3 separate regions of the Homo sapiens genome follow, and all the other regions are linked to region 2. Evidence: fine-mapped expression QTL. A gene starts in region 2. Each other region holds a variant in brackets. All regions are shown on one strand. Distances are from middle to middle.

What was found. PIP is the estimated chance that this variant, and not a neighbour inherited with it, causes the effect. A credible set is the group of variants that fine-mapping cannot tell apart.
Region 1: its variant is the best candidate, but not a certain one, in a credible set for the expression of CD2BP2 in whole blood (INTERVAL, PIP 0.68).
Region 3: its variant is the best candidate, but not a certain one, in a credible set for the expression of CD2BP2 in whole blood (TOPMed, PIP 0.63).

Annotation. Positions count from the first base shown.
Region 1 is chr16:30,315,120-30,325,801 of GRCh38, reverse strand. It overlaps the pseudogene SMG1P5. Among named protein-coding and RNA genes, the nearest start is that of CD2BP2, 35 kb to the left of the region's middle. RefSeq lists a silencer at 703-752. The variant T/C (reference allele first, on the strand shown) is at 6,310.
Region 2 is chr16:30,350,074-30,360,755 of GRCh38, reverse strand. It overlaps CD2BP2 (CD2 cytoplasmic tail binding protein 2), which reads left to right and starts at 5,448. Exons shown (of 7, transcript NM_006110.3): 1 at 5,448-5,544; 2 at 6,049-6,152; 3 at 6,434-6,572; 4 at 6,698-6,855; 5 at 6,956-7,388; 6 at 7,469-7,575; 7 at 7,661-9,983. The coding sequence starts at 6,075. The coding sequence ends at 7,771. It overlaps TBC1D10B (TBC1 domain family member 10B), which reads left to right. Exons shown (of 9, transcript NM_015527.4): 5 at 915-1,029; 6 at 1,153-1,218; 7 at 1,395-1,584; 8 at 1,939-2,093; 9 at 2,183-3,654. The coding sequence ends at 2,812. CD2BP2-DT (CD2BP2 divergent transcript) reads right to left here and starts at 5,322. Exons shown (of 2, transcript NR_184233.1): 1 at 5,136-5,322; 2 at 429-4,463. RefSeq lists enhancers at 5,277-5,336, 5,417-5,476, 4,531-5,482, 5,214-5,508, 5,199-6,398 and 1 more.
Region 3 is chr16:29,880,062-29,890,743 of GRCh38, reverse strand. It overlaps SEZ6L2 (seizure related 6 homolog like 2), which reads left to right. Exons shown (of 18, transcript NM_001243332.2): 6 at 2,019-2,204; 7 at 2,927-3,095; 8 at 4,995-5,158; 9 at 10,680-10,682. Among named protein-coding and RNA genes, the nearest start is that of SEZ6L2, 14 kb to the left of the region's middle. The variant T/C (reference allele first, on the strand shown) is at 4,892.

The DNA of each region.
Region 1 (10,682 bases), 35 kb after region 2:
CTCATTTGTTATCTGGTGTTGATTGAGGATGATTACTAAAGTGATACCTTTTATCTGCTCAATCTTCATGTTAGACACATGTATGGAATGTCATTTAAGTGTCATATAAAATGGAGTGTGGTCCATGGTGTCTGTTGGGAACATTGAATTGTTAAATTCTTTAGGATTTTCTGCCTTTGTTACCTGGCTCTTGTTCCTTATCCTAATCGCCTAAAACAAATCCCTGAGGCTCCTTTCATTGGACCACCCTTAATGATTTAGAGGAGCTGTTGTTTGTTAATCTTTTCACATTGTCATCATTTTGGTTACCTGTCTTTGACTATCTTGAAGTTTTTCAGAGCCCATTTTATTTTTGGAACTATAAAATGAAACATACTTCCCCTTGTATAGAGGCCTAACAGTAAAGAGTACAGAAATTTTGTGGTTTCATATGTATAGGAAATGCTCCCTTATTCTGAGTTTTTGTTTTTTGTTTTTTTTTTAATGTAGAGTATAACTTACTAAATTCTTGTGGAGTTCGCTCATGCAGAGATACTTGGTTTTATAATGTTATTCTTTTCCATCTTGTATTAATCGAGTGTACTTTTCCTTTTTAAATTGAATTCGTTTTTGAATTCTATTGTGGTGCTTCTTTGAGATAAAATTTATGTATGTATAGGTGGTGGTGTTTTTTCTTTTTTTCTTTTTTTCTTTTGAGATGAAGTCTCGCTCTTATCCCCCAGACTGGAGTGCAATGGTGCGATCACGACTCACCGCAACCTCCGCCTCCCGGGTTCAAGTGATTCTCTTGCCTCAGCGCCCCAAGTAGCTGTGATTACAGATGCCTGCCACCACGCCTGGCTAGTTTTTGCACTTTTAGTAGAGATGGGGTTTCACCATGTTGGCCAGGCTGGTCTGGAACTCCTGACCTCAGGTGACCCATCCGCCTCGGCCTCCCAAAGTGCTGGGATTACAGGCGTGAGCCACCACGCCCGGCCTGTATAGGTCTTAAATTCAGTAAATTTTGACAAATGTATACACCTGTGTAACCATGACCTCAGTCAAGGTACAGATATGCAGTGACTTTTTCACTATCACACCCATTCCTGCCACTTTTTTTCATATCCTTACCACTATCTGGAATTTTTATGTGTGCCATCTCCAGTAAAATACAACCTGCATATGTGCATGGATCTGGTAAAATTGTTACTTTTGCTATCCCCTTCTTTCCTACTAAGTGCATCAATAAATAGCATCCACTCTATATTTGTGTCTTTCCTCAAGTAAATACATGAAAATGAGATCCTGCAAGTTTGTGTTTTTATATTAAGTGTTAACTCCAGAGATTGCAACACTGTTCTTGTAGGATGTTTTTTTGGGGAAAGCATTCCTCTTATGGCAGCCTTGTTGGCCTGAGGCAGGGCTTAAACAAACTGATTGAGCAGGCTCAAAAGGACAGTATCGTAATGGACTGGAGTGGCCAGATCTTTCTACAGAAGAAAGAATACGGTAATTTGGCCACGCGCAGTGGCTCATACCTGTAATCTCAGCACTTTGGGAGGCCGAGGTGGGCGGATCATGAGGTCAAGGGATCAAGACCATCCTGGCCAACATGGTGAAACCCCATCTCGACTAAAAAATATACAAAAATTAGCTGGGCATGGTGGCACACGCCTGTAGTCCCAGCTATTCAGGAGGCTGAGGCAGGAGAATTGCTTGAACTTGGGAGGCGGAGGTTGCAGTGAGTGGAGATGATGCTGTTGCACTCCAGCCTGGGCAGCAAGAGGAAAACCTCTGTCTCAGAAAAAATAAAAAATAAAAGAATATGGTAATTTAAGATTCATATGTTTTATCCATCTTGAAAAATACCTTGTGCACATATTTAAAGTCTTTTTACACATTGATTTATTTTGAGTCTATTGTATCTGTCTACATTATTTAAGCAATGTAATCACTAAAAATTTAAGCACTGGGTTGAGCCTTCTGGCATCCCATTAGAATGCCTGGGGAAACACACTTCTTGCCAATTGCATGCCTGCTGATTGGGGAATGAAACGCAAATATTCCAGAATCAACAGATTTCTTTATTTTATTTTATTTGTCACCCAGGCTGGAGTGCAGTGGTGAGATCTTGGCTCACTGCAAACTCTGCCGCCCGGGTTCAAGTGATTCTCCTACCTCAGCCTCCTGAGTAGCTGGGATTACAGGCGACTGCCACCACGCCTGGCTAATTTTTGTAGTTTTTAGTAGAGATGGGGTTTCACCATCTTGGCCAGGCTGGTCTTGAACTCCTGACCTTAGGTGAGGAGGAAATGCCATTTTGTAAATCCCAAAGTGCTGGGATAACAGGTGTGAGCTACCATACCTGGCCTAGAATCAACAGATTTCTGAACATACTGAATTACTTCTTTCATATTAATTTTCAGACCTTTTCAAAAAAGGATTTGGATACCCTGTTGATATTCATATTCATATTATTATGTTGGCATTCATATAATATGTGTAGGACTTTATAGTTATTTAAAAACCTGTTATAGACTTTTTTGTTTATTATTTAAAACTTTTTTCAGAGGGACTTGTTGCTTTTTTTTTTTTTTTTTGAGATGGAGTTTTGCTCTTGTTGCCCAGGCTGGAGTGCAAGGGCACGATCTAGGCTCACGCAACCTCTACCTCCTGGGTTCAAGTGATTCTCCTGCCTTGGCCTCCTGAGTAGCTGGGATTACAGGCATGTGCCACTCGCCTGGCTAATTTTTTGTATTTTTAGTAGAGACAGGGTTTCACCCTGTTAGCCAGGATGTTCTTCATCTTCGGACCTCAGGTGATCCCCCCTGCCTTGGCTTCCCAAAGTGCTGGGATTACAGGTGTAAGCCACCTCGCCCAGCCTCAGAGGGATTTCTGGTACCAGAATTATAGATTGTTTTTGTTACCGAACTTCCTAAGTTATGCTCGTTCTTTGTTTATTAAGGGGAGACACTAGATTTTTTTTATCACGCTTTTTATCATCATAGAGAACTTTAGTAGTCTACAAGAATATTGTTAGAGGCTTAGCAGTGGCCTCACTGCACATACATGTATATGTCTTTGGGAACCTACAGGTTTTTAAGAAGTCGTTAAACTTAATATTTACTAGATATTTGTTTTTGGATGGCATCTAATATATTAATAGCCCAGAAAAAAGGCGCCACTAATGAATATGTCTTGGATTACATAGTGACATATATTAGCTTTTCGTCCACATTTGATAACATTGCTAATATTTTTTTTTTTTTTACTGAAGCTCTTTGAATTTAAAGTTTTCTCTCATTTAAATTTATTAATTGAAAACATACCTTTACTCTGTTCCCTTTAGCATTTCAACCTGATGTTAAAAGATGTGTATGTGTGATATGTGTGTTTGAAATTTTAACTTTCATCTTGGAGTATTTAATTCTCTGAAGCAGTGCATGACTCTTGCTCTTCAGCCTCTTGAGAGTGTCCCTGGTTTATATTCCTGATGATACAAACCCTGGAATTTCTTGTCTGAAGTGTTAACACTTTATTTCCAGGTCCTAATTTGATTTGAATAGTGGAAGTTCAGATTCAATGCATTAATGACAGATTCTATGTTGACTTCTTCAGATTTGCCAGACAGAAAAATCTACTTATGTGAGGAAATCATTAGGCTTTTTGACTATCCTCTTTGTATAATGAGACTCTTTTCTCATTAGATGAGTAAAAAGATCCAGAGATGATCACCAGTATCCCCCAGAATTCATATATATTTAATTGAAAAGAAAGCAAATCCTGGGATTCTTTCCTAAAAAGGTTGATTACATTTCTTGCCTGTCTGTACGTTCTTTGTATAAACGTGAAGAAAAATAAAAATATAGGTTTTCCAGCACTGGGACTATGAAATTTGAGATTTAACATTTATTCATTAGTCAGATTTAAAGGAATCTACCTTAAGTCATAGTTTATATTGTTTTTGAAGGACCTGAGTAAGGATTCTATTAAAAATGATTAATTCTGTCATTATTTGAAATATTGATAGGATTTTAATATGTTCCTTTTTTGAAAATACTAGAATTATAAATTACACTTAATAGCAAATAGGTCGTAAGTATGTGGTAATCAATTTATTGACTAAAAATTTTGTAAAAGATGCCTTTTATTTAAAGTGGCCTATCGTATAGTTACTATAATGCTAGTGCTCTCTACATTTTCATTGTAATCTTACTGAAGAAGTAAAAATTAATCATTGTTCTCCCCACTCTAATATTAATTCAGAAATCATAATTGTACACATAGGGTACAACGTAATGTTTATATATATGTGTGTAATGTAGTATGATTAAATCATGCTAATTAACATACTATCGCCTTACTTTGCTTACTTATATTTTGTGGTGAGGCATTTGAAATTTACTCTTAATTGTTTGAAATACATTATTATTATTGCTATTGTTATCTGTGTCTTCTCTTTGCAAATAAATACATCATTATTTACTATGGCCACCCTGTTGTGCAAAGATTTCAAAAACTCTTCTCCTATGTGAAATTTGTTCCCTTTTCTTTTTCCAAAAAAAAAAAAAAATCCACCTGCTGTCTTAGCATAAAAATAGAACCAGTGTGTTTTAGATTCCTCTCTAAGTGTCTTTATTTTTAAGAATGTATTTTTTTTTTTTTTTTTTGAGACGGCGTCTTGCTCTGTTGCCCAGGCTGGAGTGCAGTTGGCACCATCTTGGCTCACTGCAATCTCCACCTCCCGGGTTCAAGCGATTCTCCTGCCTCAGCCTCCCATGTAGCTGGGATTACAGGTGCATGCCACCACGCCTGGCTAATTTTTGTATTTTTAGTAGAGACGGGTTTCACCGTGTTGACCAGGCTGGTCTCAAACTCCTGACCTCAGGTGATACGTCCGCCTCAGCCTCCCAAAGTTCTGGGATTACAGATGTGAGCCACCGTGCCCAGCTAGAATGTGTGTATTTTAAAAAGTTGATCCTTCACAGATATTTATCTTAGGAGAGGCTGGTGTCATGAAAAAAGCTATGGACTAAGAATGGGAAGACAAAGATCTTCTGTATTGGCACTACCAGCTGTGTCCCTCTGAGGGGGTAATTTTTGCCTTTTGAAGACGTTGGGAGGGTTAAAGTTCAGGAAATTATTTTTAAAACTGTTCCAGTGAATATTTAGAAAAATATTAGTGGAGATAGAATTAATTGCTCTGCAGTGGAGTGGCTCTCTTTCTACATTTTCTTTTTTTCTTTTTTCCTTTTTTTTTTTTTTTTTGAGACGGAGTCTCGCTCTGTCCCCCAGGCTGGAGTGCAATGGTGCGATCTCAGCTCACTGCAACCTCCGCCACCCGGGTTCAAGCGATTATCCTGCCTCAGCCTCCTGAGTAGATGGGATTACAGGCATGTGCCACCGCACCCAGCTAATTTTTTTTTTGTATTTTTAGTAGAGGCGGGGTTTCACCTTGTTGGCCAGGCTGGTCTTGAACTCCTGACCTTGTGATCCATTCACCTCTGTCTCCCAAAGTGCTGGGATTACAGGTGTGAGCCACCGTGCCTGCCCTCTTTCTACACTTTCTAGTATAGTCCCATTAGGCTGTAAACCTATTTCAAGTTGAACGATAAGAAATTTCAGCATAGCTCTGCATCATCATTTTTTCTCCATATCTTGTATTCACACCTTAAGAATTTGTTACTAGTTGAAATGATAAGCCAGCAAACATAATCTAATCTTTGTGACTGTTTGCATAGATTGGAGGGCAAGTACAATGTAAATGGAATGTATATAGAGAAAGGGTAGGTTAAAAGGTAGCTTATAGCTTGCTTACCTTTTACTACACAGTTGGAATTTAAGAACTGATTCTTATAAGAACACCAGTTGAACGATGAGTTGCTTTTTTCCCTCTGGTGTAGTGTGTATGGGTGTGTATATACATATTTTTATTTTAATTTTTTTTTTAATGGGAGGAGGGAGGATGCCAGAAACATTTAGTTGTACTCTGCCAATGTGATAGTTTTAAGTACTTGAGGGGGTGGAGAAGAACCACACGCATCTTCTAAACAAAGATGGGAAATATCATATCATTATAAGAATGTATATACAGTATTAAGCAATTACAAGATTTTGGGCCAGGCATGGTGGTGCTTTGGGAGACCAAGACAGGGAGGTGGGTGGATCACTTGAGCCCAGGAGTTGGAGACCAGCCTGGGTAACATAGTGAGACCTCGTTTCTACAAAAAATAAAAAAATTGGCTGGGCATGGTGACTTACACCTGTAATCCCAGCACTTTGGGAGGCTGAGGCTGTCAGATCACCGAGATCAGGAATTCGAGACCAGCC[T/C]GACCAACCTGGTGAAACTCCGTCTCTACTGAAAATACAAAAATTAGCTGGGCATGGTAGTGCATGCCTGTAATCCCAGCTATTTGGGGGCTGAGGCAGGAGAATTGCTTGAACCCAGGAGGCAGAGGTTGCAGTGAGCCAAGATCACACCACTGCACTCCAGCCTGGGTGACAGAGCAAGACTCTGTCTCAAAAAAAAAAAAAAAAAATAACTGGACATGGTGTCATGAGTTTCTAGTCCCACCTACTTGGGAGGCTGAGGTGGGAGGATTGCTTTAGCCCAGGAGGTCGAGGCTTCTGTGAGCTGTGATTGTGCCACTGTCTCAAAGAAAAAAAAAAAAAGATTCTGGTACTATTTGAAATTGTAGTACTGTAAATCTATAATAAATGATTGCTGTCTCTTAAGGAACTTAGTATCTGGAAACATTGTTTCTTTTTTTCTTGTAAAAGGGAATTATAAAAGTTACTTCTTTTAAATCACTTATGTCAATCTGATTAAAGTGTGTTTAGTATAAAATGTAACAAAAGAAAAAGATAGGGTTTGTATAGACTGTGGGTTTAAAGTGGCTTAAGTGATGATTTTGAAGTTTCCTAGGTGTCTTATACTTAAGGCTAAATACAAAGACCTCAGTAAATTTCTGGCTACTGCTGAGCATGGTGGGAGCATCGTTTCCTGTTCTTACTAGTATGTTTCAGCAGCTAGCAAAAGCTGTCTTCATTTAATACATTTTCCTGCAGTTAAAATAATAGTGTGATTATCTTGAAAGGCGTCTTCCTTTTTCAGTATTTGATTTGTGAGACCATATCTTCTGGAATTACTTGAGACCTCTAATTAAATTGACTTTTAAAATTTTTTATTTCATTTTCTTTTAGAGTTGGAGGTCTTGCTATGTTGTCTGGACTGGCCTAGGATGATGACGATTTTTTTCTTTAGAGACACAGTCTGACTGTGTTGCCCAGGCTGGTCTCAAACTCCTGGGCTCAAGTGATCCTCCTGTTTCAGCCTCTTGAGTAGCTGGGATTACAGGTGTGAGCTACTGCAGCCAGCTTGGCCTAGGATTATTTTTATTTTTATTTATTTTATTTTATTTTTTTCCTGTTTTTGAGATGAAGTTTCGCTCTTGTTGCCCAGGCTGGAGTGCAATGGCGCCATCTCGGCTCACCACAACCTCCACCTCCCAGGTTCAAGTGATTCTCCTGCCTCAGCCTCCCGAGTAGCTGGGATTGCAGGCATGCACCACCACACCTGGCTAATTTTGTAGTTTTAGTAGAGACAGGGTTTCTCCATGTTGGTCAGGCTGATCTTGAACTCTTGACCTGAAGTGATCCACCTGCGTCGGCCTCCTAAAGTGCTGGGATTACAGGTGTGAGCCACCGCGCCTGGCCAGGATTATTTTTAAAGAGAAGATTTAACATATGCAATTGTTAGAAAATCTTATAAACATGTTATTCGCTGGGAATGTGCTTCAACCTGTTGGCTAAAGGAACTTTATCAGAATAACTACAGTTATTATCTGACTATTTTCAGGAGTTGAAAAAAATGGTTGCATACATTTCTTTTTTTTTTTTTTTTGAGGCGGAGTCTCGCTGTGTCACCCAGGTTGGAGTGCAGTGGCGCGATCTCAGCTCACTGCATGCTCCACCTCCCGCGCTCACGCCATTCTCCTGCCTCAGCCTCCCGAGTAGCTGGGACTTCAGGTGCCTGCCACCACGCCCGGCTAATTTTTTTGTAGTTTTAGTAGAGACGGGGTTTCACTGTGTTAGCCAGGATGGTCTCGATCTCCTGACCTTGTGATCCTCCCGCCTCGGCCTCCCAAAGTGCTGGGATTACGGGTGTGAGCCACTGCGCCTGGCCCATTCATTTCTTATATTGGTAAACATGACTTCACCTTTACCTTGATTATAAAGTCCCAGTCTACTTTTGAGATTCTTTAGATTTCTGCAGTGTGTAACTCTTTTTTTTTTTTTTTTAAACGGAGTCTCGCTCTGTCACCTAGGCTGGTGTGCAGTGGTGCAATGTAACTCTTAGTGATTCTTAATCTTGGTTGGAATGTGCTATGTTTGGCCTTTTTTTTTTTTTTTTTGGAGACCGAGTCTCACTCTGTTCTCCAGGCCGGAGTGCAGTGGCGAGCTCTCAGCTCACTGCAACCTCCGCCTCTGGGTAAGCGATTCTCCTGCCTCAGCCTCCTGAGTAGCTGGGATTACAGATGTGCACCACCACGCCTGCCTAATTTTTTTGTATTTTTAGTAGAGACTGGGTTTCACCATGTTGGCCAGGCTGATCTCGAACTCCTGAACTCAGGTAATCTGCTTACCTCGGACTCCCAAACAGCTGGGAGTACAGGTGTGATCAACTGTGCCTGGCCTATGTTTGGCATTTAACTGGTGGGGGAGGGATGCATATCTTTGTACATTTTCAGCCTTTTTTGTCCTTCATCTGTTAAAGAGGTCATAGAGTAAGACATTTCCTTTTAATCTTGGCAATTTCCCAGGCCAAATGATAGGTTTCTAGGGTACTTCCAGGACTTAACTGACAAAAGGGGAAGATAAGCGATGCAATTGAGAGCTGAAGTAGGGTCTCTCTTTTTTTTTTTTTTTTTTTGGAGTCTTGTTCTGTCGCCCAGGTGGGAATGCAGCGGCGTGATCTCGGCTCACTACAACCTCCGGCTTCACTACAACCTCCGGCTCACTACAACCTCTGTCTCCCGGGTTCAAATGATTCTCCTGCCTCAGCCTCCTGAGTAGCTGGGACTACAGGCACCACACCACCAGGCCTGGCTAAGTTTTTGTGTATTTTTAGTAGAGGCAGGGTTTCACCATGTTGGTCAGGCTGGTCTCGAACTCCTGACCTCATGATCCGCCCGCCTTGGCCTCCCAAAGTGCTGGGAGTATAGGCGAGAGCAACTGTGCCCGGCGAAGCAGCATCTCTTTTTAAGGTTGTAAGGTAGCTTGGGTTAGAAATAAAGGCAGAGAGCCACTCCATACCTGTAGTTCTAGCTACTGGGGAGGCTAAGACCAGAGGATCTCTTGAGCCCAGGAGTTCAAGGCTGCAGTGAGCTGTAATCACACACTGCACTACAACGTGGGCAACATAGAGTGAGACCTAATTAAAAAATAAATAAATAAATAAATAAATAAATGCAAGGAGAAAGTCATGAACTTGGTGCATTTAGGTGTACAATTAGTTGGCATAAACAATTTTTTTTTTTTGAGATGGAGTTTCTCTCTTGTTGCCCAGGCTGGAGTGCAGTGGCACAGTCTCGGCTCACTGCAACCTCCGCCTCCTGGGTTCAAGTGATTCTCTTGCCTCAGCCTCCGGAGTAGCTGGGATTACAGGTGCCCGCCACCACGCCCAGCTAATTTTTGTATTTTTAATAGATGGGGTTTCGCCATATTGGCCAGGCTGATCTTGAACTCCTGACCTCAAGTGATCCGTCCGCCTCAGCCTCCCAAAGTGCTGGGATTACAGGCGTGAGCCACTATGCCAGCCAAGAATTTTTAAAAAAGGAGTTTCATTCAGCCCACCTCATTCCTCTGCAGGGCACCTGTGTGCAGGGCAAAACTGCTCAACCCTACTCAGCAGCCCTGTGAAAGCTGCTGAAAGGATGAGCAGATTGAGGCCTGAACTGTATCTTGGATTTAGCAGCCTGGAGGTCATAATGGATTTTGCCAAGAGTGATGGGGCAGAATTTGGACCAGTGTGTGTTAAGGAGCTAGAAGAAGTGAAGAAATGGGAGAGGGGAGTCTAGACAACTTTAGTTTGGCTGCAGCAAGTAAAGGCAGATTGTTCGATGGAGGGACATGTGGGATTGATGGAGTTTTTCCTTTTTATATGTTTTTGCATTTTTCAATGGGATACATTAGAAAGTGTTGCATGTTTATGGGGGGGATTTAGTTCAGTGGGAAAAGTATTTGAAAAGTTACAGTAAGGTAGAAGTAGATGGAATCCTCAGTAAGGTCTAGAATCGGGTGCAGGTATTTTATGGTATCTTCCCCACCCCTCCCCGAGATGGAGTTTCGCTCTTATTATTGCCCAGGCTCTGGAGTGCAGTGGTGCAGTCTTGGCTCGCTGCAACCTCCACCTCCTGGGTTCAAGCGATTCTCCTGCCTCAGTCTCCCGTGGAGCTGAGATTACAGGTGCGCACCACCACACCCAGCTAATTTTTGTATTTTTAGTAGAGATGAGGTTTCACCATTTTGGCCAGGCTGGTGTCCAACTCCTGACATCAAGTGATCCACCCGCCTTGGCCTCCCAAAGTGCAGGGATTACAGGCGTGAGCCACCGTGCCCAGCTGGTACCTTTTTTTTTGTTGGTGAAGTAGAATGTGTGTATGGGGAGGGGAGGTGGATAGGATATTTTGGAATTTGAAGAT
Region 2 (10,682 bases):
GTGCTTGTGGAAGTTACATATTTATTTTAATATGCATTAGGTAAAATAACCATATCAAACCTGTCATTTCGTGGATGCTTTTGCAAAGTGGAGAAAAAATGTCAACTAAATAGTAGGGTGGTATGCAGATAAAATACAAATGAAGATCACACTTGAATGCCTGGAGTTTTGGGAAAAGCTATTCTGGGAAGTGGTCAGGAGGAGGATGTGTGAGACTGGAGGCAGGGAGAGGATCTGGGAGGTCATTTTTTATGGGCAAGAAATGGAGGTCTGAGCTGCGAATGGCTGTGGAGGTGGAGAGGAGCAGGCAGGAATGGAATTCAGGGTGCAGCGCTGCTTAGGCTTGGAGTAAGGGGCTCTTTTCTGATGTGGGGCTGAGTGAATAGAAGTCCTGGACACGGCAGTGGGGCACCCTCAAGAAGAGCAGATCTAGGGTACAGATTTTATTCTTTTGGATGCAGAGACAGGAGAAAGGGCTGAGGCACAGCTGGCTTCCAAGCCTTCCCCAAGAACCATGAAATCCAGTGAGACCGATAAGGCAGGCCCTGCCCTGGGGAGCTACTGCTTTGGGGTGACAAAGACATTTAGTGCTAGAGGAGGGCTGATGCTGCAGCTGTGGAAAGCTTCCTGGAGAAAATGACCTGGAAGGTTTCTGGGATGTGGCTGAGGAAGGAGGGCGAGGGTGCAGCCTGTGCTGGGATGGCCAGGAGCATGTGGAGTATGTAGCCAAAGGCGGAGCCCCGGGGCCTGGAGTGCTCTGCTGTGGGCTGAGCCTTTAGCTGAAGCTCGCTCAGCAGGACTGGGCAGGTGGATGGAGGAGCCTGGTGATAAACTCTGGGACGAATCTGGAACTGGGTTTGGGGACAGAGCTCTCAGCCCGTGACTGCCCTCACAGTCTTCCCCAACCCCCACAGGCAACAGGACCTGTACCGAATCCTGAAGGCCTACACCATCTACCGGCCTGACGAGGGTTACTGCCAGGCCCAGGCCCCCGTGGCTGCGGTCCTGCTCATGCACATGCCTGCGGAGGTCAGCGCCCTGGTCCTGGGCCGGGAGGGGCAGGGGGGATCTCACCCTACAGTGGTGATGGGGGAGCTCCCTGCTCCCTGCTTCTCAGGCCCCACCCCTCCTCCTTGTTCTTGCTCTTCTCAGCAAGCCTTTTGGTGCCTGGTGCAGATCTGCGACAAGTACCTCCCAGGTTACTACAGTGCAGGGCTGGTGAGTGTCTGGAGGCTGGGTGCATCCGGGGCTGTGGCGTTTCCTCCAGGCTGCAGGCAGGTCCTTGCCTTGCCCCACCCTGGCCTTCCCGGCTTCTGCCCACAGGGCCGGCCAGTTCTCCCCTGATGGGGGCACAGCTGACTTGGCCCTCTTCTCATGGCTTGTCCCACCTGCAGGAGGCCATTCAGCTGGACGGGGAGATCTTTTTTGCACTCCTGCGCCGGGCCTCCCCGCTGGCGCATCGCCACCTGCGGCGGCAGCGCATTGACCCTGTGCTCTACATGACGGAGTGGTTCATGTGCATCTTCGCCCGCACCCTGCCCTGGGCGTCGGTGCTGCGTGTCTGGGACATGTTTTTCTGTGAAGGTACTTCTGTGGCCCTCCAGGCCATGAGGGGCTGGGGTTTCTGTGGTGGCTACCAGGGGTTCTGTCATATTTCTGGTGGTCCATGGACAAAAGGTACTTGTTGGGTGGAGGTTTCACCATAAGCAGCTGGGGGCTGGAGAAACAGGCCTGATTTTAGTTCTGCCACCAACCCAGAGCCTGCTCTCCCTGCCAAGATCCTGAGACTGATAGCAGCTCATGTACTTTCACAGGGCCTCAGTTTCCTCATCTGAGATTGGCAGTAGATGGGGATGGGGGCTGTGAGTCTATCCTGATCAGGACAGGCTGAGATCTTGGGTCTGACCACCCCATGCTCTCTACTCTCCACCCCTGCAGGCGTTAAGATCATCTTCCGGGTGGCCCTGGTCCTGCTGCGCCACACGCTGGGCTCAGTGGAGAAGCTGCGCTCCTGCCAAGGCATGTATGAGACCATGGAGCAGCTGCGTAACCTGCCCCAGCAGTGCATGCAGGAAGACTTCCTGGTGCATGAGGTAGGCCTGTGCCCTCAACGCAGCCCCTGCCTGCCTCAGCCCGCTCCCACCCTCAGCTCCATTCTGGTACGCATTTCCTCTCTGTGCAGGTGACCAATCTGCCGGTGACAGAAGCACTGATTGAGCGGGAGAATGCAGCCCAGCTCAAGAAGTGGCGGGAAACGCGGGGGGAGCTGCAGTATCGGCCCTCACGGCGACTGCATGGGTCCCGGGCCATCCACGAGGAGCGCCGGCGGCAACAGCCACCCCTGGGCCCCTCCTCCAGCCTCCTCAGCCTCCCTGGCCTCAAGAGCCGAGGCTCCCGGGCAGCTGGAGGGGCCCCGTCCCCGCCGCCCCCCGTCCGCAGAGCCAGTGCTGGGCCTGCCCCAGGGCCTGTGGTCACTGCTGAGGGACTGCATCCATCCCTTCCCTCACCCACTGGCAATAGCACCCCCTTGGGTTCCAGCAAGGAGACCCGGAAGCAGGAGAAGGAGCGGCAGAAACAGGAGAAGGAGCGGCAGAAACAGGAGAAGGAGCGGGAGAAGGAGCGGCAGAAGCAGGAGAAAGAGCGAGAGAAGCAGGAAAAGGAGCGAGAGAAGCAGGAGAAGGAGCGGCAGAAGCAGGAGAAGAAGGCTCAAGGCCGGAAGCTTTCGCTGCGTCGAAAGGCAGATGGGCCCCCAGGCCCCCATGATGGTGGGGACAGGCCCTCAGCCGAGGCCCGGCAGGACGCTTACTTCTGACCTCTGCCCTGGGGCTGGACTGCATGGCCCCCCTCTTTCCCTCAGCCAAGAACAGGCCTGGCCCAAGGTGCCACCCCCTAGCACCTTGTCAGGCTGTCCCTTGCTGGGGAAAGTGGCTTGGTTCCCCATCTCCTCGCCAGCTGCTGATCCCTACACGGGCAGGACAGATGGGCAGCTGCAAATGAGTCTGGAGCCTCTCATCTCCCATGAGGCTCAGCTGGGGTCTCTGTCGCTCCTGCCCCAGTTCCCTCTGGGTCCCCTCCTAGGTGCTGTCCTGAATGGCCCGTTGTCATCCCAGGGGTGACTCCTGGTGATGGGAGTCAGCAGTTTCAGATTCTTACACTCCATAGCTCCCCTTACCATGAGGTGGAGCTGGCTTCCTTTTCCCTGTCTTCAGCCCTCCCTGTCTCCCCCACTTCCTGGCCAGGGCTCTCATTCTGGACCTGTGTTGTAATTGTGTACAGAGGATGGCGTTGGCCTGGGGTGGGGGTGCTCGCTTTGTCTTCTGTCCTTTGGTTCTCCTTCCATAATGCTCCTGTACCCAGTTTATTTAAGGGGACATGCACTGGAATAGGAAATGTCCCCCATCTCCCTTCCTGCACCCTGCTGTGCTCCCTCCAAACCCACCTTGCTCTGTGTTCTCAGGCCCCCCTGCTTTTGTCTCACCAGGACCCATACCTTTCACCTTGTTCCCTTCCACCCCTCCAGTTAGTCCCTATCTGGGTAAGGGTCTTCCCTTGAGCTCCAGGGGGTGGAACCCAATGTTTACATTCTCTTCTGTCTCTGCCCCCACCCCATGCAGCGCTTTGAGGAATTGGAAAAGAACCTGCTGTTGTACCTGGGCCTGTTTTCTGCCTTGTTATTTGATGAGGGGGGGATGGGGTAAGGACGAGGGAGGGAGGGACAGAGCCAGGACCTGGGTCTCTGTTGAAGCAGTCTGCTGTCTTGGCAAGTAGGTACCTCTTAGCTTTGGGTCCATCTCTCAGTCACTCATCAGACACTGGTTGAGCTCCTGCTCCATCTTTGCCTGGGATCTGCTGTCTCCATTGTCACTGGCTGCCTGGAGCTCTCTATGTACCACGTGCAGCACCCGGATCTCCTTCCCAAAGTGCTCATGCAACTCCTGGAAGCTGGAGGGGGTACTCACAGTGGCTAGAAAGCCACTGTCCTCTGGGGATGAGATGGGTTCTTGGCCAGTTGCCTGGCACAGCTCCCAGTATTGGGTTTTGGTGGGGGGGGAGGGGGGACAGCAGCCCAGCCAGCCGCCTCCAGCTCGCGCCAGCCAGTGCCCACAGCCAAGTCTCCAGCTCTTCCTGGGTTTCTGCAGCCAGCTTGTAGGCCCGCCCACCTGTGCCCTCCACCCCAGGGGTCAGGATGGTAAAGGCATAGGGTTCTGCAGCCTTAAGGTGTGGTTCCACCTGGCAGTTCTCTAACAGGATGAGGCTCAGGGGTGCATGGTCGGTCTAGTGTTCTAGGTAGAAGAGGAGGTTTCCTCGGAGGATGAACCATCGGCGCTGGTAGCTGAGGTTTCGGGTCCCCTTCTTTAGCAGAATGCCTTCCTGGTCTGGGGCCTGTGTTCTGTAACCATGGAAGAAACTGAGCACGGACTTTCTGTGCAGTTTTCATCGTGATCCAATATGGGAGGAAACCCCTAGGGAGAGAGAAGTGGCCCATCTAGTTGCCTGGGGGAAGAGTAGGGGAACTCTCATGCTGTCCTCGTCTGGCTTCAGCACGTGCTGCCTGCGCACAGTCTTGGCTTAGGGGGATGCAGGCTCCGAGTGTCAAGAGCTAGGGGTCCCAGCACAGGGGCTGATCCCCGCTACCTCCCCAATTCCCCCTTCTGCTTGGGCCACATTCCGCTACCTGGGCAGGAGTTGCTAGGCCCTGTTTGCTCAGGGGGGCTTCATGCTGCAGAGAGGCACTGTTGCCCTTTTCCAGGCCTACCTGAGAGCAGGGCACAAGGGGCTTCTGGCCTGAGTACTGGCGCCAATGCCACCTCTCCAGTGATGGCTCTCCCACCTCAGAAACCAGGAACTCGCCCAGGGTATGGGCGTGGGACAAATTATTTCCCCTGGGTCCTAAAGGGAGGTGTGTTCAGAAAGTGCCCGGAGAGCCGTCCAGGGGCCCCAGGCTGGCCATCGGGAGAGTCAGGCTTCCCCTCGGAGAGGCAAGGCTGCACCTCTCAGGCTAGGAGGGCTGACCACTGGACCATAGGAATGGGAAGGCAGGATTTCTAACGAGACGGTAGGGGCGCTGAGCCCTTAGCCCTGGGGGAAGGGTGACTTGAACCCAGGACAGGAAAACGGAGCAGCAACCCACTGACCCTGCTCGGACTTTGCCCCTCCATCCTGACCCTGGGCGGCCCTTTAAGCAGATGCGCTCCAGTTTTTCTCCAGAGCCTCTACTGCTTGAATGACGGACTCGAAGCTACTTCCGGCCATTTCTCACGCCCAGTCAGAGTCCAGGAATTCTTAGGTTCCCTCTTCTCACCATTGTCCTCCCACGTGACTGACGTCACTTCTGGCGGGAGAGAGGGTGGAGGCGTCTTCGCTCGCTTATCGCATACTTCCGCCCGCTCTTCCAGTTAGTTCCCTAACCCGAGTGAAGCCACTTCCGGGCTTCCCGGGCGCCTTCCGCAGTCCTCTTCCGGGTGATGGCGGCCGGGTGCCCCGGATGTAGCCCTGGCGCAAGCATCTCTTCTTTTTTCCACCTCGCCTTCCGCGGATTCCCAGGTGAGTGCGCGAGGGTGGGACCGCCCGAATCCCCGTGGCCCTCTAAGTTGTACACAGCCCGGGACAGTTGGGGCTCACCACACGGAATTGGGAGTTCGGAGCAGGGAGGAACGGGGTGGCGAGAGCGCCAGGTCCTGGGTCTGCCGGGGCCCGGCGAGCTCCGAGAGAGCCAGGGTAGAGAGCGGGGGTCAGCCCGTGGAGCCGGTGGCGCGCAGACTGCGGGGGCTGGAGTTGGGGGCGGTCACGTGGTGAAGCCTGTCTCCTTTCAGCCAGGGTCGGGGGATCCAGAGGGTCCGCTCCTCCGTCCCCGCCCCGTTTAACTCGCGGATGCTAGACCCAAGTCCTGGAGGCCTCCTGGCTGCCAGCTTCCTTTCGGCCCCTGCTTTTGTGCTCCCTCCGCTCCCAAACTGTACCTGTCACAGACCAGGAAAAATGTTTGCTGTGCTGCGTCTGTTGGCGAGTCCCCTCCTCACCCGGTTCCCTTCCTCTGCATCCTTTCCTCAGCTTGAGAAACACCTCTTTGCCCCGTCATGCCAAAGAGGAAAGTGACCTTCCAAGGCGTGGGAGATGAGGAGGATGAGGATGAAATCATTGTCCCCAAGAAGAAGGTGAGGGGGCCAGACTGCTTTGTGTGGGGGAAAGAGGAGCTAGAAGCCTGAAGAGGAAGAAAGCTGGCGGGAGAGGGGCGGGGCGGGCAGGCAGAGAAAAGCCTAGTTTTTTCAGGTTCTCTGAGGAATGGGTTGGGAGCGTCTTTAGTGTGGCTCCTGAAATATTTGGGGAAGTAGTCGAGATCCTGAAATATTTGGGGAATATTTGGGTCCAGATCCGGAAGTATTTGGGGAGGTAGCCAGTAACCTGCATTTCTCAACTTTCTGGCTCCTGCTCACAGCTGGTGGACCCTGTGGCTGGGTCAGGGGGTCCTGGGAGCCGCTTTAAAGGCAAACACTCTTTGGATAGCGATGAGGAGGAGGATGATGATGATGGGGGGTCCAGCAAATATGACATCTTGGCCTCAGAGGATGTAGAAGGTAAGCTGTACCCAAGAATACACTCTGCTGGAAAAACAAGTAGGGGCCTCTGGTGGTGTGGAGCGAGGGAGGCTCCGGTCTCTTTTTTCCATGCCTGGAAAAGGGCACCTGTGTCTTTGGTGCAGGTCAGGAGGCAGCCACACTCCCCAGCGAGGGGGGTGTTCGGATCACACCCTTTAACCTGCAGGAGGAGATGGAGGAAGGCCACTTTGATGCCGATGGCAACTACTTCCTGAACCGGGATGCTCAGATCCGAGACAGCTGGCTGGACAACATTGACTGGGTGCGGCCCAGGGGCTGGCGTGGCTGGGGCCTGGGAGTGGCAGATGCTGGGCCTGCTCCCGTGGCAGTTGGTGGGAAATCACTCCATCTTCCCATTACAGGTGAAGATCCGGGAGCGGCCACCTGGCCAGCGCCAGGCCTCAGACTCGGAGGAGGAGGACAGCTTGGGCCAGACCTCAATGAGTGCCCAAGCCCTCTTGGAGGGACTTTTGGAGCTCCTATTGCCTAGAGAGACAGTGGCTGGGGCACTGAGGCGTCTGGGGGCCCGAGGAGGAGGCAAAGGGAGAAAGGGGCCTGGGCAACCCAGTTCCCCTCAGCGCCTGGACCGGCTCTCCGGGTTGGCCGACCAGATGGTGGCCCGGGGCAACCTTGGTGTGTACCAGGAAACAAGGGAACGGTTGGCTATGCGTCTGAAGGGTTTGGGGTGTCAGACCCTAGGACCCCACAATCCCACACCCCCACCCTCCCTGGACATGTTCGCTGAGGAGTTGGCGGAGGAGGAACTGGAGACCCCAACCCCTACCCAGAGAGGAGGTGAGCTTGGAGGACAGAGGAGGGGGCAGTGGGTAGGAAGTGAGACACTGGAGGCCAAATGGCTTTGCCTGTTATTTTAGAAGCAGAGTCGCGGGGAGATGGTCTGGTGGATGTGATGTGGGAATATAAGTGGGAGAACACGGGGGATGCCGAGCTGTATGGGCCCTTCACCAGCGCCCAGATGCAGGTGAGCTGCTTTCTCCCTCCTCCTGCCTTGTCCCTGCTTCCCCCACTCCTGTCAGTTGTTCCCCAGCTCTGCCCTCTCCTTGCAGACCTGGGTGAGTGAAGGCTACTTCCCGGACGGTGTTTATTGCCGGAAGCTGGACCCCCCTGGTGGTCAGTTCTACAACTCCAAACGCATTGACTTTGACCTCTACACCTGAGCCTGCTGGGGGCCCAGTTTGGTGGGCCCTTCTTTCCTGGACTTTGTGGAGGAGGCACCAAGTGTCTCAGGCAGCGAGGAAATTGGAGGCCATTTTTCAGTCAATTTCCCTTTCCCAATAAAAGCCTTTAGTTGTGTACTGGGGCCTTGGCTGTGCTGATGGCCAGAAGCCAGGGGCCTTCTCCACAGTCCCTTTGGACTTGTCTTGGTCCCTGAGTACTCCCATGAAGATCCTTCTTGGAGGTGCCTGTCAGGTATCCTGTGGCCTCCCTGCCTGGACTCTGCTTGCCGTGTAAACACCCCCAACTGCGCTGCTCTGTGCTCCTCTCCCAGGTTTCTTGTTCGATTCCTCTTAGGTCTTTGGCTTTCAGGACCTCAGATTCTTTATCCTTGTAGCCACCAGAGGACAGAGCCCCAGAAGTGGATGTTTTAGGCCCAGAAGGACCAGGGCATCGAGAAGACATTGGGACCCTGTTGGGGGTGAGCATGGAACCCTCTTACTCTCGCTTCACCCTCTCAAGCTCCTTAGATGCTGGGCAGAAGTGGGATGAGTGGCCCAAGACCGAGATCCCTAAGGTTCTGAGAGCCAGTGTCTTCCCTAATCTGGCTTTCCTCTATCCTTGCCGTCGTTCCCACAGCCCTTCAGTGAAGTGCAAACTCAGTGGCCAAGTGTGGGCCAAGTGTGCATTGTACTGGCACAGAGAGGGGCAGTGACTCACTGGAGATCACAGGAATCAAAGGGCTGGCCCAGACCCAGTGGGCTCCTTTCCCAGACCTTTCTTGGCACAAAGCCTTTGCTGCCTGGCCTTGGAGGCCCTGCGGCCTACATTCTCTGGACCCCACTATGTGCCTGGCACAGGGCTAGTGCCTTGAGGAAACTGAGGTAGCTGGGTTGGTCCCCTTCCAGGAATTCAGAGTCTGGTGGCAGGGGCATGGGAAATAGACAGATGTAATTCTATAGCCTGGGCCTGGCACCCTCCACCTCCACGCCCCACCAGCATTGCCTTACGCCTCCCTTGCCCCACGTTAGATGGTTTCTTCCGGTTTTGCACTCTGGCTGCCCCTTGGAGTCTCCTGGGGAGCTGTAATATCTCTTTGGAGATTCAGATTGAGCTGGTCTAGGTTGTGGCCCAGGCATTGGGCATTTTGGAAGCCCCCAGGTGTTTTCAGCTTGCAGCCAGGCCGAGAGAGAGCCCCTGAGTCAGATCCCCATGGTTTAGGCACACCTAGCGGGAGGGGTGGCTCCTGGACCCCACCGTGGTTGGAGAGCTGAGCATGTGTGTGGCTTTAGTGGGGTCTGTTAGTTATGGGGGTCTGGGCACTGGAGCTGCAGGACACTTGGGATCCCAGGTCAGAAAGGGCCAGATGAGCAACTAGGAAAGACTTGGGGGCCAGGGCGGAGTGGGGTCACCTGACACTCTTGTGAGGCCCCTTCTAGTGCCTGCTCACACCGGAATTTCATTCACTCCAAGAAGCCATCAGGGGTAAGATACCTTCCTTTAAACGTCACTAAGAAAGAAGAGGCCTGCCGGTGACACAGTAAGATGCCATTGATCTAAAGATGCGTCTTGATTTCAGAAAGGTCCGGAAGTGGAAAGCAGGTTTCAGGGCTGCTGAGGTACAGGGTTCTCCTGTAGGCCCCAGGGATGGTCTCAGGGGTGCTGAGTGCGTGCGTGGTAAATGGATGGAGCCCAGGGGCGCCTCCTGCCAGTGTCCTCCAGGCACTCAAACCTAGCCCTTCTGAAGCCGACCTCACGTGACCTCACAGCCCCTCCTGAAGGCGCCTCACTGATGACGGTGGGTGGAATAACAGCCCCCAGAGATGTCCAGGTTTGGAACCCCAGGACGTGGGAAAGTGTTACCTTGCGTGGCAAAAGGGACCCGGCGCCTGTGCTTCAGTTCAGGATTTCGTGGTGGGGAGATGACCGTGGATGGTTGAGGTGGGCCCTGAGTAATCATGGGGGCCCTTATAAGGGAAGGGGAGTCACGAGGGTCTGCGCATGAAGCAAGGAAGCTTCTGGCTGTGAAGATGGCAAGAAGGCCTGGGGCCAGGCGATGAGGTGGCCCCTGGAGGAGCTGGAAAAGGCATTGGATTCTGCCCCAGAGCCTCCGTGGAGAAACAAAGCCGCACTGACAAGACTTCAGCCTGGTGAAAACCATTTTGGACTCCTGACCTCTAGAACTGTAAGATAATAAATTGGTGTGGTTTTCAACCTCTCAGTTTGTGGTAATTTGTTAACAGCCCCAATAGGAAACAACTACTCATGCATCCAGGGGACACCTCATGAACCACCCGATCTCACTAAGTTCTCCCTTCCTGTGACCACATTGCTATTTCAGGTCCCTGTCAGCACTTATAAATGTGGCTGCCTCTTGCTAGGGTGGCCTTTATAGCACATCTGAAACAGCACTCCTTGGCTTTTTGTTTGTTTTGTTTTTAGAGACAGGGTGTTACTGTCACCCAGTAGGGGTGACAACATCTCTCTACACTGGAGTACAGTGGTGTGATCATAGCTCAATGCAGCCTTGAACTCCTGGGTTCAAGTGATCCTCCCACCTCAGCCTCCTAAGTAGCTGGGTCTACAGGAGTGCACCACTTCACCTGGCTAATTAAGAAACTTTTTTTTGTAGTGGCAGGGTCTTGCTATGTTGCCCAGGCTAGTCTCAAACTCCTGCACTCAACCGATCCTCCCAGATCAGCCTCCCAAAGTGCTGGGGTTACAGGTGTGGGCTACTGTGCCCAGTGTGCTTTTCTTTTTTAGTTGTGTGTGTATATATGCAGTTTATATGTATACAGTTTGTAAGAGATACATATAGATAGATAGATAGATATAAACTTTTTGTTTGAGTAAGTTTTTTTTTTTTTTTTTTTGAGATGGAGTTTCGCTCTTGTTGCCGGGCTGGAGTGCAAA
Region 3 (10,682 bases), 470 kb after region 2:
GACAATGGTTAATGTGATGACAAAATCATGCATGCAGGACTGTGTACAGGTAAGAGAACAAGTAACTGTTGGAGAGATGTAGAGTCAGGAAGGCTTCCTGGAAGAGGTGGTACATAAGCCCCCCAGTCTGATCTCTTAAAAGATGAGAAAGTAGGGGGAGAGCACAAGCGAAAATATGGAGGTGGAAAATTAAGGAGTCACAAAACTGTGTTGTGTAGGCTATATCGGTCTTGGGAGATCAACCCTGAACCTGGAATGTGCTGGGCTGCATTTAACTATGGAAGGGGCTTGAATGTCAAACTAAAGCATTCAGACTTGATTCTGTTGGGCATGGGCAGCCATTCCCAAAGCTACCATTTATTGAAACCACTTTGTTCTAGAAGGTTGTTCTTATGTTCATCTCAGTAGACAATGGACTCCTGAGGACAAGGCCTGGGTCTTTTTCCTGACCTCAGGTGATCCGCCCGCCTCAGCCTCCCAAAGTGCCAGGATTACAGGCGTGAGCCACTGTGCCTTTAAAGACTATTTTGTCTTTAAAGATCTTAATACTCAGTGGCCTGTAAATGAATCCCCCAGTGAAAGTGAAGTCAGGAGGTCTGAAGAGATCAGGAGTTCGAGACCACCCTGGCCAACATGGTAAAATCCCATCTCTACTAAAAATACAAAAATTAGCTAGGCATGGTCGCACACACCTGTAATCCCAGCTACTTGGGAGGCTGAGGCAGGAGAACCGCTTGAACCCGGGAGACGGAGGTTGCAGTGAGCCGAGATTGCGCCAATGCACTCCAGCCTGGGCAACAGAGTGAGACTTCTCCTCAAAAACAAAAACAAAAACAAAAAGACAAAATAGTCAAATTTCCTCAACAAGTTTCATGTTTGCTTGAGGCCAGGAGTTCAAGACCAGCCTGGGCAACATACTGAGATGTCATCTCTACAAAAAATTTAAAAATTAGCGGGGCATGGTGGCACAAACCTGTAGTCCCAGCTACTTGGGAGGCTGGGTCAGGAGGATTGCTTGAGGCCAGGAGTTCAAGGTTCCAGTGAGCTATGATCACACCACTGCACTCCAGCCTGGGCAACACAGTGAGACCCTATCTCAAAAAAAAAAAAAAAAAAAAAAAAAAAAAAAGAAGTTTCAAGTGGTTCTTCTGGATGGAAGCTGAGGAGCTGAGGGTATACCACAGGGCACCTTGGTGGAAGAAAGGCTGTGTGTGTGGAGGGAAGAAAAATCAAAAGAGACATTTAATAACTTGGAGCCTCAGTGTTCACACCTGCAAAACAGGTCACATAATCTTTTTTTTTTTGAGACAGAGTTTTGCTCTTGTCGCCCAGGCTGGAGTGCAATGGGACGATCTCGGCTCACTGCAACCTCTGCCTCCTGGGTTCAAGTGATTCTCCTGCCTCAGCCTACCAAGTAGCTGGGATTACAGGCACCCACCACCACGCCTGGCTAATTTTCGTATTTTTTAGAGACGGGGTTTTACCATGTTGGCCAGGCTGGTCTCGAACTCCTGACTTCGTGATCCACCTGCCTCGGCCTCCAAAAGTGCTGGGATTACAGGCGTGAGCCAGCATGCCTAGCCAGGTCACATAATCTTTGTCTGCTGACCTCAAAATCTCTGTGTGGACTCACTTTGGGAGCTGAACAAGCTCTGCAAATACTGTTATTACAGCTGGATGAAGTTCAGAGTAGTTCATTGATTTGCCTGAAGTCACACAACAAATGAGTAGCGGGGTCCAGAATAACTTGTTTGAACCTCAGATACCTCATCTATAAAATGGGGGCCAACGAGGGTGAATTACAATGAGTGGGGGAGATAAGGGGTGTTGGAGTTTCCTGTTCGCGAGGCAAGGTGCCTGTGTGAGGAGCTCTTATTTCTCGGTATGTACGCCAGTATGGAGCCAGTGTGTGCCCCTGGAAGGTTGGCCTGAAAGGAGAGGGGGGAAGTGCTGGGGGATCAGTATGAGAGGGTGGCATGGGAAAGTGAGCCCTGCTACCCGCTGTCTGTCTGGTGCAGCCTACCTCCTGAGCTGTGGCTTCCCTCCCCGGCCGGCCCATGGGGACGTGAGTGTGACGGACCTGCACCCTGGGGGCACTGCCACCTTTCACTGTGATTCGGGCTACCAGCTGCAGGGAGAGGAGACCCTCATCTGCCTCAATGGCACCCGGCCATCCTGGAACGGTGAAACCCCCAGCTGCATGGGTGAGTCTCCTGCCACAGTGGGTGGGGCATCTGTTCTGGGAACCCCATTGGGAGGGTCCTATCTCGGGGGTGTCCAGGTGTCCACCTTTGGGGAAAACCCATTCTGAAGGGGTGTTTACCCTGAGGAGTCCCCATCCTGGGGTCTGCAGCCAGAGCTCTTTGTGCGGAGGGTCTCTCTCCTTGGGGTTTCTCCATCCTTGGGTGGTCTCCATCTCGGGGTGTCCCACTGGAGATTTTATTTTGGGAGTCACCATTCTGGAGGTCCCTTCTGGGGTAGCGTCCTCATCCTAGAGGAAGCCATTTTTAGGGTTCATGTCCAGAGGGCTTCTATCCTAGAGAGCCTCTTACTGGGATTCCCATCCCGTGGTGTCTTCACTCTGAAAGTCCTGTCCTGAAGATTTCCCAGCTGAGGCTTTGAATTTTAGGGATCCTTGTAACTCCCCATCCTAGAGTATCCGCAGTTGGAGAGTCTTCATTTTAGTGGTGTCTCCATCCTAGGAGGTGTCAATCCTGGGGTTCTCCCGTACCGGGGCTGGTTTCTTTCCTGGCTCATGCCTGGAGAAGGTCCCATCCTCTGGAGTGACTCCATGGGACAGAGGCCAGCCCTGGGCCGGGTCCCAGCCAAATGTGTGAATGCAACAGTTCTGAAAACGGGCCGAGGCCCCGAGGAGAAGGACAGTTCACCTCAGGCTGGCCTTAACGTACCCCTCCTCTGCCCACAGCATCCTGTGGTGGCACCATCCACAATGCCACCCTGGGCCGCATCGTGTCCCCAGAGCCTGGGGGAGCCGTAGGGCCCAACCTCACCTGCCGTTGGGTCATTGAAGCAGCTGAGGGGCGCCGGCTGCACCTGCACTTTGAAAGGGTCTCGCTGGATGAGGACAATGACCGGTAAGGGTCTGGGTCTTGGGTCAGAAGTCCCCACCTTGGCCGGGCATGGTGGCTCATGCCTGTAATCCCAGTACTTTGGGAGGCCGAAGCAGGCGGATCACAAGGTCAGGAGATCGAGTCCATCCTGGCTAACACGGTGAAACCCCATCTCTACTAAAAATACAAAAAAAAAAAAAAAAAATTAGCCGGGCATGGTGGTGGGCACCTGTAGTCCCAGCTACTCGGGAGGCTGAGGCAGGAGAATGGCGTGAACCCGGGAGGCAGAGCTTGCAGTGAGCCAAGATCGCACCACTGCACTCCATCCTGGGAGACAGAATGAGACTCCGTCTCAAAAAAAAAAAAAGAAGTCCCCACCTCAGGGAAGTAGGGAGGCTAAGTGGGGACTTGGACACAGCTGGGGTGGATCCTGGTTGAGATATGCATCACAGCTTAGTCCTAAGCCTTTTTTTTTTTTTTTTTCTTTTTTTGAGACAGAGTTTCACTCTTGTTGCCCAGGCTGGAGTGCAGTGCCGCAGTCTTGGCTTACCGCAACCTCTGCCTCCCGGGTTCAAGTGATTCTCCTGCCTCAGCCTCCTGATTAGTTGGGATTACAGGCATGCACCACCATGCCCAGCTAATTTTGCATTTTTAGTAGAGATGGAGTTTCTCCATGTTGGTCAGGCTGGTCTCAAACTCCCAACCTCAGGTGATCTGCCCACCTTGGCCTCCCAAAGTGCTGGAATTATAGGCGTGAGCCACCACACCCAGCCAGTCCTAAGACTTTCTTAGGAAGTGTAGCTGTGAAACCTTAGACAAATCACTTAACTTCTTTGTGCCTCAGTTTCCTCATCTGTAGAATGGAGATAACAATACTTCCCTCTTCAGGTTTCTGTGAGGATAAGTGCTGAAATTATATAAAGTCCTTAGAATGGCACCTGGGACAATAAGCACTATAAAAGTGTCTGCTATCCTCTTTTTTTTTTTTTTTTAAGATGGAGTCTCACCCTGTCGCCCAGGCTGGAGTGCAGTGGTGCGATCTCGGCTCACTACAACCTCTGTCTCCCAGGCTCAAGCTATTCTCCTGCCTTAGCCTCCCGAGTAGCTGGGACTACAAGCGTGTGCCACCACGTCCGGCTAATTTTTTGTACTTTTTTTTTTAGTAGAGTTGGGGTTTCACCGTGTTAGCCAGGATGGTCTCGATCTCCTGACCTCGTGATCCACCCACCTCAGCCTCCCAAAGTGCTAGGATTACAGGCATGAACCACTGCACCTGGCCTTATTTATCTATTTATTTATTTTTGGAGACAGACTTTCGCTCTGTCACCCAGGCTGGAGTGCAGTGGCACGGATTCAGCTCACTGCAACCTCCACCTCCCAGATGCAAGCAATTCTCCTGCCTCAGCCTCCTGAGTAGCTGGGATTATAGGCATGCACCACCATGCCTGGCTAATTTTTGTATTTTTAGTAAACATGGGGTTTTACCATGTTGGCCAGCCTGGTCTTGAACTCCTTGACTTCAGGTGATCCACCCGTCTTGGCTTCCCAAAGTGCTGGGATGACAGGTGTGAGCTGAGCCACCATGCCTGGTCAAGCATCTGCTATCTTCATCATCATTATCATCCTTTACCTAGCAACTTGGTATCTCAGCCCTGCCACTACTTGCTCTGTGACCTTGGACAGGTTACTTGATCTTTCTATGCCCTAATATCCTCATCTATAAAATAAAGGATAATAATAGTGTCTGACTCAAGAGTTCTTGTGAAAATTAAATGAGATAGAATGTGTAAGGGCTTAGAAGAGTGCGTGGCATATAGTTA[T/C]GTGTGATGATAACAGCTATAAAAATAAGTTAGGAAAGCAGGCAAGGGGTGAGGCAGCTTGTGAGGGAGATTGAGCTCCTGGTCACGTTTCTGTCCATCCCAGGCTGATGGTGCGCTCAGGGGGCAGCCCCCTATCCCCCGTGATCTATGATTCGGACATGGACGATGTCCCCGAGCGGGGTCTCATCAGTGACGCCCAGTCCCTCTACGTGGAGCTGCTGTCAGAGACACCTGCCAATCCCCTGCTGTTAAGCCTTCGATTTGAAGGTAAGTGACCCACTCCCCCACAGGACCCCAACCGCCACACCTTCCCCTCTTCCTGACACCAAGCATAGTCGGAAGCACAAACTCTATGCCTGTTCATCTCCGTGCTGGGTTCCTTGAAACGTGACTCGCTTCCCTGCCCCAAAACTGCAAGGATCTCTTCTAGGGACCCCTTCTCCTTCCCCCAGGCAGCCTTCTCTGTTTAAGCTTCATGAATGTCTGGATCCAGGTACATAGCCCAGAGACCAGTTATCTCAGTATCTCGGTTCTTTCCTCTGTGCTGGCTTCATCCTTAGGCACTTTCCCTGTGTGATGGACATAGCTGCCGACTTACATACCACCAACTTAATTTTTATTTTATTTATTTATTTATTTATTTTTTGAGACGAGTCTCGCTCTGTCACCCAGGCTGGAATGCAGTGGCGCCATCTTGGCTCACTGCAAGCTCCGCCTTCCGGGTTCACGCCATTCTCCTGCCTCAGCCTCCCGAGTAGCTGGGGCTACAGGCACCCGCCACCGCGCCCGACTAATTTTTTTGTATTTTTAGTAGAGACGGGGTTTCACCGTGTTAGCCAAGATGGACTCGATCTCCTGACCTTGTGATCCGCCTGCCTCGGCCGCCCAAAGTGCTGGGATTACAGGAGTGAGCCACCGCGCCCGGCCTTTATTTATTTTGAGACGGAGTTTTGCTCTTGTTGCCCAGGCTGGGGTGCAATGTCATGATCTCGGCTCACCGCAACCTCTGCCTCCCGGGTTCAAGCGATTTTCCTGCCTCAGCCTCCCGAGTAGCTGGGATTACAGGCATGCGCCACCATGCCCAGCTAATTTTGTATTTTTAGTAAAAATGGGGTTTCTCCACGTTGGTCAGGCTGGTCTGGAACTCCCGAACTCAGGTGATCTGCCCGCCTCCGCCTCCCAAAGTGTTGGGATTACAGGCGTGAGCCACTGCGCCTGACAGTTTTTAGTTTTTATTTATTTTTATTTATTTATTTATTTTGAGACAGAGTTCCTCTCTGTCGCCCAGGCTGGAGTGCAGTGGCGCGATCTCAGCTCACTGCAGCCCCCCTCCTCCAGGTTCAAGCGATTCTCATTCCTTAGCCTCCCGAGTAGCTGGGATTACAGGCATGCATCACCACGCCCAGCTAATTTTTGGGTTTTTAGTAGAGACGGGGTTTCACCATGTTGCCCAGGCTGGTCTTGAACTCCTGGGCTCAAGTGATTCGCCCATGTGGGACTCCCAAAGTGCCAGGATTACAGGTGTAAGCCACCTCCTCCAGCCCATACCACCAACCGAGTAACCTCATCAGAGAGAACACTCATATATTTCCTGAGAGCTCAGCAAAAATGCCAGGAGAGGCGTTCATTGACCTGACTAAGATCCTGGTTGGCCTTAGCCTGAGCCAATCACTGAGCTAGGAGAAGGGAGTATTGGGATTGGCTAATCTGCCTCACGTGGCCTTCCCTGGTGGGCTCCAACTTAACCTAGTGGACTGGGAGTGGGGAAGGCCTGCGTCCCAAAATTAAAATTGGGATGCCGTTACCAGAAGAAGAGGAATGAATGTGAAGGGGTAGAAACAAGGAAGTGATCATGGAGGAAGAGGCATTTCACCTTGGCCTTAAAGGATAGAGGGTATTTTATTATTATTATTATTATTATTGAAATAGGTCTTGCTTTGTCGCCCAGGCCGTAGTGCGGTGGCCCGATCATGGTTCACTGCAACCTCAACCTCCTGGGCTCAAGTGATCCTCCTGCCTCAGCCTCCCTAGTAGCTGGGACCACAAGCGTTCGGCACCATGCCTGGGTAATTTTTACATTTTTTGTAGAGACAGCATCTCACTATGTTGCCCAGGCTGGTCTCCAACTACTGAGCTGAAGTGATCCTCCCACCTCGGCCTCTCAAAGTGCTAGGATTACAGGCGTGAGCCACCCTGCCCAGCCAACAGAGGATATTTTAAAAGAGGAAGATTGAGGCCAGTTGTGGTGACTCGTGTCTCTAATCCCAGTACTTTGGGAGGCCAAGGTGGGATGATTGTTTGAGGCCAGGAGTTTGAGAACCAGTCTGAGCAACATAGTGAGATCCTGTGTCTACAAATTAAAAAAAAGTAATAATTATCCAGGTGTGGTGGCACACACCTCTAGTCCCAGCTACATGGAAGGTTGAGGTGGGAGGATCACTTGAACCCCACTTGAACCCCAGAGGTTGCAGTGAGCTATGATTGCACCACTGTGCTCCAGCCTGGGCAACAGAGCAAGACCCTGTCAAAAAAAAAGAAGAAAAGAAAAGAAAAGGAAAGAGAGGAACTTTGAGAAACAGCAAGTAGGGAAATGCCTGGTATGTCTGGGAAACAGAATTTCATTGTGGCTGAAACAGAGGAGTTGTATAAACAGTAGCAAGAGAGAGACCAAAAAGATGAAATGCTTAGAGATAGGAGGGTCTAGTGTTTGATATGAATCATGGGAGAAATGGAATTGGCACTCGGCTGTGATGGATGGGTAGGATTTGGACATGATACCTTGCAGGTTAAGTAACAGTGAAATAGAACAGTGGATCTGCAAAAATGAATTGCGGGATAGATTCTGGGAGTGTTAAAGTGCAAACAGCACAGATCTTTTACCGAAAATAGCAAGTTGTGAGTCCTGACTCCAGAGTTGTAGGCCACTGCTATTCTATGAGTTTAAGATTCTTCACTGTGGCCAGGCACAATGGCTAACGCCTGTAATCCCAGCACTTTGGGAGGTTAAGATGGGAGGATCACTTGAGCCTGGGAGTTGGAGACCAGCCTGGGCAACATAGCAAGACCTTTGTCTCTACAAAACAAAACAAAACAAAAAATTAGCCAGGTGTGGTGGTGCACACTTGTGGTCCCAGCTGCTTGGGAGGCTGAGGCAGGAGGATCGCTTGAGCTCAGGAGGTCAAGGCTGCTGTGAGTTGTGATCCCACCATTGCACGCTCCAGCCTAGGTGACAGAGCAAGGCCCTGTCTCATTTTTTTCCTTTTTTTTTTTTTTTTGAGATGGAGTTTCGCTCTTGTCACCCAGGCTGGAGTGCAATGGCGCAATCTCGGCTCACTGCAACCTCCGCCTTCCGGGTTCAAGTGGTTCTCCTGCCTCAGCCTTCTGAGTAGCTGGGATTACAGGCATGTACCACCACGCCCAGCTAATTTTTGTGTTTTTAGTAGAGACGGAGTTTCACCATGGTGGTCAGGCTGGTCTCAAACTCCTGACCTCAGGTGATTCACCTGCCTCAGCCTCCCAAAGTGGGGGGATTACAGGTGTGAGCCACTGCATCTGGCCTCATTTTTAAAAATAAATAAAATAACCCGGGCACAGTGGCTCATGCCTGTAATCTCCGCATTTTGGGAGGCTGAGGCAGGTGGATCACTTGAGCCCAGGAGTTTGAAACCAGCCTAGGCAACATGGCAAAGCCCCATTTCTACTAAAAACACAGAAATTAGCCAGGTGTGGTAGTACGTGCCTGTAATCCCAGCTACTCAGGAGGCTGAGACATGAGAATGGCTTGAACCTGGGAAGCCGAGTTTGCAGTGAAGTGAGATCATGCCACTGCACTCCAGCCTGGGCGACAGAGCGAGACTCAGTCTCAAAAAATAAAAAAATAAAATATTAAAATAAAATTAAAAATCTCAAAAAAAAAAAAAAAAGGCCGGGTATGGTGGCTCACGCCTATAATCCCAGCACTTTGGGAGGCTGAGGCGGGTGGATCACCTGAGGTCAGGTGTTCGAGACCAGCCTGGCCAACATGGTAAAACCCCATCTCTACTAAAAAAATACAAAAATTAGCCGGGGGTGGTTGTGGGTGCCTGTAATCCCAGCTACTCGGGAGGCTGAGGCAGGAGAATCACTTGAACCTGGGAGGCAGAGGTTGCAGTGAGCCGAGATCACACCATTGCACTCCAGCCTGGGCAACAAGAGCGAAACTCCATCCCAAAAAAAAAAAAAAAAAAAAAAAAGAATTCCTCATTGGTATCATAGGCACCTAAATCTTAACTTACAGGGAGTTTTGCAGCTAAGATCCGATCAGGTGGGCAGAAACTCAAATGCTCTACAAATGTTCACTTTTGCTGACTTGAAGTAAAAACTGAGTAGTTTTTGCATTAGCTGAAATTTTGGGTTTCAGCAACAGCATGGATGATCAGAATCCAACTGTTATTTCTGAGGAGACAATACACCTACACCAGCCAGTTCTCTGAAGGCACCCCTCCCCTTACCCGCTATCTCTGCTGTTTCCAGAGCCAAGTATCTGTGGCTGGGAATCAAACCATCTGGGTTTGAGACCTGCTTTTGCCATTGTCTTTTGTGTGACCTTGAGCAAGTGGCTTTTTGGTCTATGGACCTCCGCTCTGTAGAATGGTGGCTGGGATTTGGCTAGCTCAGTGGCTTCCCTCCAGAGGCCAGGGAGGCAATATAAATATGTGAATGAGGAGTGTTAGAACTTTTTTTGACAGTCTGGAGAGTGAATGCTAAACCCAGTGGCATTCAGTTTTTAAAAACCCACCAACGCCAGGGCAATGGCTCATACCTGTAATCCCAGCACTTTGGGAGGCCGAGGCCAGCGGATCACCTGAGGTCAGGAGTTCGAGACCAGCCTAAGTAACATGGTGAAACTCCATCTCTACAGAAAAAAAAAAAAAATCAGAAAATGAGCTGCTGGGTGGGGTGTGCATGCTTGTAGTCCCAGCTACCAGAGAGGCTGAGGTGGGAGGATCACTTGAGCCTAGAAGATCTAGGCTGCAATGAGCTGTGATCACACCACTGCACTCCAGCCTGGGCAACAGAGTGAGACCCTGTCTCTAAAAAAATTAAAAAAAAACCCAGGCTGGGCGCAGTGACTCATGTCTGTAATCCCAGCATTTTGGGAGGCTGAGGCAGGCAGATCACTCGAGGCCAGGAGTTCAAGACCAGCCTAGCCGACATGGTGAAACCCCTGTCTCTACTAAGAATACAAAAATTGGCCAGGCACGGTGGCTCATGCCTGTAATCCCAGCACTTTGGGAGGCCGAGGCAGGCAGATCACCTGAGGTCGGGAGTTTGAGACCAGCCTGATCAACCTGGAGAAACCCCGTCTCTACTAAAAATACAAAAAATTAGCCAGGCGTAGTAGCACATGCCTATAATCCCAGCTACTCAGGAGGCAGGAGAATCGCTTGAACCCAGGAGGCGGAGGTTGCGGTGAGCCAAGATTGTGCCATTGCACTCCAGCCTGGGCAACAAGTGTGAAATTCCATCTCAAAAAAAAAAAAAATAGCTGGGCATGGTGGTGCACGCCTGCAATCCCAGCTACCTGGGAGGCTGAGGCATGAGAATTGCTTGAACCTGGAAGTCAGAGGCTGCAGTGAGCCAAGGTTGTACCACTGCACTCCAGCCTGGGCGACAGCACAAGACTGTTTAAAAAAAAAAAAAAGCCCAGTGAGTGGCCAAAGAACACCCCAATTCAGCCCACATCCCCAATTTAAGATCCCTTGAGGCCTGTCCTAATGCTTAATTGTTATGACTGACTCCTTCCCAGCCT